2 linked regions of the Homo sapiens genome follow. The protein of the gene in region 1 interacts with the protein of each later gene in a biochemical or structural test. Each region holds a gene or a part of one and is shown on either strand. Other genes may lie near its edges.

Evidence for each region.
Region 2: the proteins of MBL2 (region 1) and DMBT1 form a complex in vitro, tested with the Homo sapiens proteins (one study listed by IntAct).

What each region holds. Positions count from the first base shown.
Region 1 is NC_000010.11:52,769,858-52,774,370, reverse strand, and holds the start of MBL2 (mannose-binding protein C precursor), read left to right. Parts: upstream 1-1,586; 5' UTR 1,587-1,634; intron 1,635-2,711; exon of another isoform or gene 2,712-2,726; 5' UTR 2,727-2,735; coding exon 2,736-2,922; intron 2,923-3,584; coding exon 3,585-3,701; intron 3,702-4,513. UniProt on the Homo sapiens protein: Calcium-dependent lectin involved in innate immune defense. Binds mannose, fucose and N-acetylglucosamine on different microorganisms and activates the lectin complement pathway.
Region 2 is NC_000010.11:122,577,750-122,581,559, forward strand, and holds part of DMBT1 (scavenger receptor cysteine-rich domain-containing protein DMBT1 isoform e precursor), read left to right. Parts: intron 1-61; coding exon 62-91; intron 92-968; coding exon 969-1,010; intron 1,011-1,828; coding exon 1,829-2,152; intron 2,153-3,116; coding exon 3,117-3,146; intron 3,147-3,810.

The sequences.
Region 1 (4,513 bases):
CCACCACATGGCCCCGCAGCCTCTGAACTTCTCAGGATGGGCTCCCCAACACCCCAAGCTACATGGCATTTTTCTGAAAGCCATATCAGTAATGTAGTTGAGAATCAAATGAACTATGTTCGTAAAAGTATTCTTCCATCCCTTCTAGATTGTCCCCATTAACCACAGCAAGATGGTTCAAGCCATTAACACACACGATACCCATGATCTTATAGTGCCAAGTGCTGTTCTTTTGCTTCTTATCTCAGTTGAGTGGCTCCTAGATAGTCAAGTCATAAATGTGTGTGCCCATGAAAACTTCTTATTATCACTCACTATTCTAGCTAATTCTCAAGTGCAATCAATACCTCCTGTTTCTCAAGTGTGCCTACCTTCTTAATCTAGCTGCCATTACCCTGACCCAGGCCACTGTCTTCTGCTGCTTAGATCATGGCAAGCACTTCCTTTTAGATCTGCTTTTCTCCAGTCCTGTTCCCCTCAACATCATAGCCAGAACAAGCCTTGCAAAATTCAAATGTGATCACCTCTCCACTACTGCAGTCCCTCTAGTGCCCCCTGGAAGGAAACCCAAAGTCTTTAACACAGTTTACAATTCTTGTTATGAGGATGAAATTTGAAGACATTGTGCTAAGTGAAATAAGCCAGATACAAGGGGGCTATTGTATGATTTCACATATATGAGGTACCTAGGATAGATGAATTCAGAGAGACAGAAAGTAAAACAGAAGTTACCAGTGGCTGTGGGTAGGGGTAAATGGAGAATTCTAGTTTAATGAGTTGAGAGTTTCAGTTTGGGATGATGAAAATCATCCCATGATGTGGTGATGATAGCACAACCGTGTGAATGTACTTAATGCTACTGAGTTGTGTGCTTAATAATAATGGTCAAAATGGTAAATTTTATGTCTATTTTACCACAATGAAAAACTGGAAAAGTAAAGTCAATGACTATAATATCATAAAGTGTAAGTAACATGAGAGAAAATAATTCAGGCTAAGAGGATAGAGACTGCTAGGTAGGACTATTTTAGAATAAGTGATCAAGGTACTGATTTCTCTGAAATTGGAATATTTGAATAGAAGAGAAAGAGCTAGCTGGCGATGCCCGTAAGGGGTCCAGGCATGGAGACATCAAATGAAGAGTCTGAGGCAGGAATGGCCTTAATGCATTAATGGCAGCAAGAGGTCTATGTGGTTTCATGGATGGGTGTGTGCGTGCATGCACGTGTCTGTGTGTATAGTTGGTGTGCATGAGCATGTGTATGCATTTGTGAGTATCTTTGTTTTTCTGTTGGAAACAAGGATGTCAACAGGACTAACTAGGTGAACCTAGCTGTGGTAGTTCAGCAATGAGATTTGCCAAAATGGATGGCAATTGAAAGAGGAATTGTGCTGTATTAAAGCAGACAGCTGCCGAGCACTGTATTGGAGGCTCCTAAATTTCTCATAGTTCTGAGAAGAGCTGTTTATTAATCTGGAGTTGAAGGCCAGGCCCAGGATATCCTTGTTCACAAGGTTGATTGGGCCCTACATTGCTGAGCCCAGCCTCCTCCCTCACTCTGAGGCATCTGCCAGAGCCCCAGGCTAGAGGGCCAGCGTCCTTGTCACTGAGTCCCTGCTCTGCAGAAACACCAGTAAGTCATTTCTGGTGAATAAATCTGGGTTTCCGGATCAAGGGTTTGGGGAGCTGACATGACCCTGGAGGCATGGAGGAGGCTTTCTAGGGGTGGGGGGAGTGGGATGGAAAGCAGAAATCAGGTTGAGGATGTCTCTTTTTCTGCTTGTGCTGGAGCATCTGTGACTTTCCTCCATTATCTGTTCATCTGCAGTGGAGACTGTCTTTGTTTTCAAAGGGAAACTTGGAGGCTTAGACCTATGGGGCTAGGCTGCTGAGGTTTCTTAGGGGGCAATAGCTGGAAGAAAGCTCTGAAGAACAAATGAAAGGTTAATACTGAGAAATGGGAGGAGGATTCAAGGCAAGTTTTCTAATTGCCAGTGGTTTTTGACTCACAGAACATGGGGAATTCCTGCCAGAAAGTAGAGAGGTATTTAGCACTCTGCCAGGGCCAACGTAGTAAGAAATTTCCAGAGAAAATGCTTACCCAGGCAAGCCTGTCTAAAACACCAAGGGGAAGCAAACTCCAGTTAATTCTGGGCTGGGTTGGTGACTAAGGTTGAGGTTGATCTGAGGTTGAGACCTTCCTCTTTGGATCACCAGCTTTCAGCTCAGGGCCTGCCAATGAGTAAATGATAGTTAACAGGTCCTGGAGGGGAATCAGCTGCCCAGATACAAAGATGGGATTCAGGTGGCAGATGGACCCGAAGAGGACATGGAGAGAAAGAGGAAGCTCCTACAGACACCTGGGTTTCCACTCATTCTCATTCCCTAAGCTAACAGGCATAAGCCAGCTGGCAATGCACGGTCCCATTTGTTCTCACTGCCACCGAAAGCATGTTTATAGTCTTCCAGCAGCAACGCCAGGTGTCTAGGCACAGATGAACCCCTCCTTAGGATCCCCACTGCTCATCATAGTGCCTACCTTTGTTAAAGTACTAGTCACGCAGTGTCACAAGGAATGTTTACTTTTCCAAATCCCCAGCTAGAGGCCAGGGATGGGTCATCTATTTCTATATAGCCTGCACCCAGATTGTAGGACAGAGGGCATGCTCGGTAAATATGTGTTCATTAACTGAGATTAACCTTCCCTGAGTTTTCTCACACCAAGGTGAGGACCATGTCCCTGTTTCCATCACTCCCTCTCCTTCTCCTGAGTATGGTGGCAGCGTCTTACTCAGAAACTGTGACCTGTGAGGATGCCCAAAAGACCTGCCCTGCAGTGATTGCCTGTAGCTCTCCAGGCATCAACGGCTTCCCAGGCAAAGATGGGCGTGATGGCACCAAGGGAGAAAAGGGGGAACCAGGTACGTGTTGGGCTGTTCTGTCTCTGCAATTCTTTACCTTCCAGAGGAAACTGCCTGGGGATATGAGGAGACTGATGTCCTATTTGAGTATATTTTTCTCAACTATACTGTAACTCAAAACAGAGATTCAGCTCTCATTCTCTGGCATCTCAGAATTCCACACAGCAGTTTGTGACTAATAGTTGTCTTGCCAGCCCAGGAAAGTGGCCCACAGGTCAGGCCATCCCGTGGGACACAGGATGAATTTTTCTTCTCTGGGTCATTGTCATGTCAGACCCCTATTCACTTCAGTAGGGATGGCACCAGGTTCAAGAGGCCAAAGAAGAGATGGAGTCAGCAAACAAACATAGGTTTTACTGGGGGAATCTGTTTACAGGGAGATCCAGCAGCAGTGGGCTGGACAGGAGAACAACAACTACTGGTAAAAACAAATGCAGTTAATTTTCACTTTGCACCCTCCCTGCAGCAACCTCCACGTGGCAACTTTATTTCTTAAGTTATTGCTCTCAGGTGCCCACCATACAGTTATTGAGAGCAGTGCTCAGAAAGGTCAGTCCTGGGTCAAGGTCTCCTTTCTCCTGAGAAGGGATTGGGCATCAAACTCTTGAAGAGAGAGAGCAAGAACATAGATATTAAGTCACATTTCCTTTGTCTTCCAACAGGCCAAGGGCTCAGAGGCTTACAGGGCCCCCCTGGAAAGTTGGGGCCTCCAGGAAATCCAGGGCCTTCTGGGTCACCAGGACCAAAGGGCCAAAAAGGAGACCCTGGAAAAAGTCCGGGTAAGGACCCCAGCAAGGTCTGAGCTGACTTCACCCAGGGTTCTGAGACCTTGAGTATCTGGTAAGAGGTGCCCCTTCTCCTGTTCCTTCAAAGGAAGATACCCAAATTTGCTTTCTGACCCAGTGCCCTCAGCCCTCTCTTCATTCTTAGAGCCTTAGGGAATTCCTATAAGTGCCTGAGTACAGACTTACAAACTTTTCAAGACAACTCCCTCATCAGGCACTCCCTGTAAGAGCTGAGCCTGGATTCTCCATCAGCTGAAACAGTCTAATGTGAGGCCCTGGTCCTAGAGGGAGAAAACAGGCCATCTAAGTGTGGGCTTATTATACCTATTTTTACAAAAGCATGTAACCATGGTATGTCATATTTTACTTCATAAGAAACCAAGCCAAAGCTTAATAGCTTAAAAACATAGCCGTCAATTTAAATCACAAGTCTGTGGGTCGGCCATGTGATTTCTCTGCTGGTTTAAGCTGGGCTTACCCACATGTCTGTGGTCAACTGATGGCCAATAGTCTCACTCATGTGTCTGGCTGTTGTCTGAATGTTAGCTGGAGTGATGAGGGTAATTGAACCACATCTCTCATCATCCAACAGGGCTTGTTCACATAGCAGTGATTACAGGATTCCCAAGAGTAGAAATAAGATAGGCTTTAGGCTTCTTGAAGACTCAGAGCACATTATCATTTCTGTCAGACTGTATTGGTCAAAACAAGTCACAAGGCCAGCCCAGATTCAAGGAGTGGGGTAATAGACTCATGTCTTAATGCGAGGAGCTGTACCCTATTGAGGCCATTTTTGCCATCTACTA
Region 2 (3,810 bases), about 70 Mb from region 1:
CTTAACTCTACTTGGAGTCACTGAGTGTTTGGTGTCTAATGTTGCTATTTTTTTCTCACAGCTGCCCAGCCTCAGTCAACACTCAGGCCAGGTGAGTCCCCAGAATCCTTCCTCGGGATACCCCTTCTCTTTCTGCTCAGTTACCCCTTCCCTACTCCACAGAGCCCTCCTGCTTCTCTGCAGATACTCTGGGGCATATTATTTCACCCCCAACTCTGTAACTGAGACCCTAGCATGGGGCTTCTTAACCACACATGGGATTTAGCTTCTGCCTTCTCTTCAGTCCATCTCAGCTTTCATCACACAGTTCCATGCTGTCCCAATGAACAACTCTTAGAAGTTCAGAAAGAAGCCTGCTGTTTAATGAGCTTTGGCCTCTTTATATTCAGGGCTGACACAACCTTTCTGAGAATTGAGGGTGAGACCCTCTAATGTTCTGTTGAAGGCAAGGTCAGTACAGGCTTGATACCCCCATCTCTCACTACTTGAAAAACCCCCAGATTCTGCAGGGCCACGTCTGCATTCAGAAGAGGCAGAGGCCATGCTGAGGGGAGAGAGAGGCTAAGAAATGTTTCTGGTGCCTTCACTTACCAGGAAACCTGATTTCCCCCAGGGCGGACCCCTAGTATCCCGAACATTTTAGCTGCAAGTGTCAAGTCTTGGCAGTGGTGTCAGATGAGCCAGTCAGTCCACGCGTCAGTGGATGGTGGGGGATGGGGGTGGTGAAGGTTTCCTAACTGCGAATAGGTCATCCCTCTCTCAGAGAGAGGTGGAAGGGCCTGCATGGTGTCCTTTGTCCCTGAATGAGTTCCCTGGGCAGGAGACCTGGGCAGACACATGGGGAGCAAGTGGCCAGACCTTCGAGTGGAATTGTTTTCACAGTGCTTGCCTGGTCCAGAGAACCGCTTGTTTTTTACCTTTTTCCCTTCAAGTCCAATTGTATCCTTTCTCTTTGTTGCTGTTTACAGAAAGTTGGCCTGTCAGGATATCACCACCTGTACCCACAGAAGGTAAAGAATCCTCTCAACACTCCCTGGGGCTCACTTTCTACCTCTGGATACACTTTGGATTTCATAGTTCACTTATGATTGCCATAAAGAGAGGTGGGGAAGTGGGCTAAGCGTGGGAGGGTGGCAGCAGGTGATAAACAGTTGGCTCAAGAGTCAGCTCGGCACTGGGAACAAGAGCAGGACCTCCCAGAAGATCATTAGGAATCATTAGGCTCATGATAGGATGAGGCTCAAGGTGGGCCCCTTGCTTTTTCATGTTTCTGTGGGTTGGGTAGGGAGGAAGCTGGAGTCTCTGAAAACCCAGAATTAGATGTGATATTGGAGGGTGGAGGGTGCTGGTGACCTGTCTCCTGTGGGATCCTGTTCCAAGTGGTCAGAAAAGATCCTTATCTATGGGCTCAGAACAAGCCCTGGGGGTCTCCCTAATCCTATGGGGACCTCATCCCTGCCATCTCTGGTACTCTGCCAGTCAGATCCCAGATAGGACCATGCTCCTGAATAAGGGAGGGGTCTGGGCCTGCCATCTGGAGCTGAGCAGCTCCATCCTCTGTGTACCCAACTGGGGAGTGGGGCATCCATTCCCATCACATCCACTGGGGTCACAGGTGCTTCCCCAAAAGTTGAGCATCCATAGACCTGGGCAGAGTAGGTTATCAGTGCTACTTTCACGGTGATGAAGCCTAGTCTGTGGTCATATGCAAAGGTGACTGCCTGCCTAGGTGACTTAGTTCATTAGGAAGTACCCTGAGTGTGGAACTTACCTTAGATTCTTGACCTCATGATAGGGATGGATGAAGGGTTCTTGTGTTCCCCTGTAGGATCTGAATCCAGTTTGGCCCTGAGGCTGGTGAATGGAGGCGACAGGTGTCGAGGCCGAGTGGAGGTCCTATACCGAGGCTCCTGGGGCACCGTGTGTGATGACTACTGGGACACCAATGATGCCAATGTGGTCTGCAGGCAGCTGGGCTGTGGCTGGGCCATGTCAGCCCCAGGAAATGCCCAGTTTGGCCAGGGCTCAGGACCCATTGTCCTGGATGATGTGCGCTGCTCAGGACATGAGTCCTACCTGTGGAGCTGCCCCCACAATGGCTGGCTCACCCACAACTGTGGCCATAGTGAAGACGCTGGTGTCATCTGCTCAGGTGGGCCTTCAAGAACTTGGGCTCACTCTCTTGGGGTGGAGTTTGCTCCAAAAGAAACTCCTAATTACATTCTGATCTCCTCACTCAAAGCTTCTATGTTTTCTATGTTTCTGAAGACTTGTCAGCTCTCTGCTAAGAATCCATATGTACTCACTGCCTAGTGTTCCTGTGGTCACTTAGGACAGGGGATCAAACTAAAACAACCCAGAGTTTTTCCCCTTCCTGAGGCAAGGCAAGGAAGAGGCAGAAGAGAAAAGTGCCGGCTCCCCAGGGCTCCATTTCTCCCCTGCTGAGTAGCACGGTGTGAGGGTATAATGGATGCAGCACAGACAGCAAGGCAGGGGAGGGATCCCCTCACTGCGAGGAACTCTGAACTAAAGATGCTTGGCTAAAAGTGGGTTCTCAGCTGAGACCCAGTGAGGAGGTCTGGAAATAGAGGCTCAAGGGTTAGGAGTGCAAATGGGTGTCTGTTTGTATCAGGCCTGGGTTGCGTGGGGTTGGAGTTCTTGACCTCAGCTCTTCTCAGAACGCTGCTGAGCATTGCCTGTGTTCTAGGTCTGGTGAGGGGAGGGCAGTCCCCATGAGGCCAGCCAGACATGGCCTTGTCATTGCCTGTGATTGGGGCTTGAAGATCGCACAAGGGATTTTGGCTGGAGTGGCTTCCTCAGCCTTGCTGACTCAGGAACACCTAAGATGTGCAAGGGAGTGGGTTGGTTTAGGTCAACCGGGTTACCCTGGGCAGACACAATTTGATCACCTCAGAGCTGGCAATAGTGGACAGGATCTGCCTCGACCCCTTACACGGTGCATCTCTGTGGGGATGTGCATGGCAATGTCCCTCCCTGTGTGATAGGAACTAGGATGGACTGAGTGTCAGACTCGCTCATTTCTTTCCCTCCTCGTTCCAGTTTTGCCGACTTCTGTGTAATGTTCCTGATCTGACCTTCTCTTCTCTTTCTCACAGCTCCCCAGTCCCGGCCGACACCCAGCCCAGGTAGGTCCCCAGTGTCCTTCCTCAAAATGTCCCTTCTCTTTCTGCCCAATCACCCCTTCCACACTCCACAGAGCTCTCCTGTTTCTCTGTGTGGATACTGTGGGGCATATTATTTCCACCCCCAACACCGGCTGTGTAACTGAGATCCCAGCACAGCGCTTTTTAAACACACACAGGATTGAGGAGGCCTCTGTCTTCTTTTCAACCCCTCTCAGCTTTCATGAAACAGTTTCATACTGTCCCAGTGGACAACCCTTACAGGTTCAGGAAGTGGCCCCATGTTTAATGAGCTTTGGTCCTTTTATATTCCGGACTCACATATAGTTTCTGAAAATTGAGGGTGTCACCCTCTGACCCGTTCAAGGCATCGTCAGGGCAGGCTCGATACCCCCATCCATCACTGCTGGAAACATTCCGAGATTATGATTCCGAGATTTCTATCCAGAAGAGGCAGAGTTTGTGCTCGGGCAGGGAGAGGGATAATAAAGGTTTGTGATGTCTCTGCTTAACCAGAAACCTGATTCCTGATTGTCCCCTGGGCAGCCCCTGGTTCCCCTAACATTTTACCTGGCAGTGTCCGAGCTTCAGCAATGGCGTCTGATGTCCTAGTCAGTCCATGCATCAGCAGATGTGGGATGGCATGGTGGGGGCATCCTCTAACAGA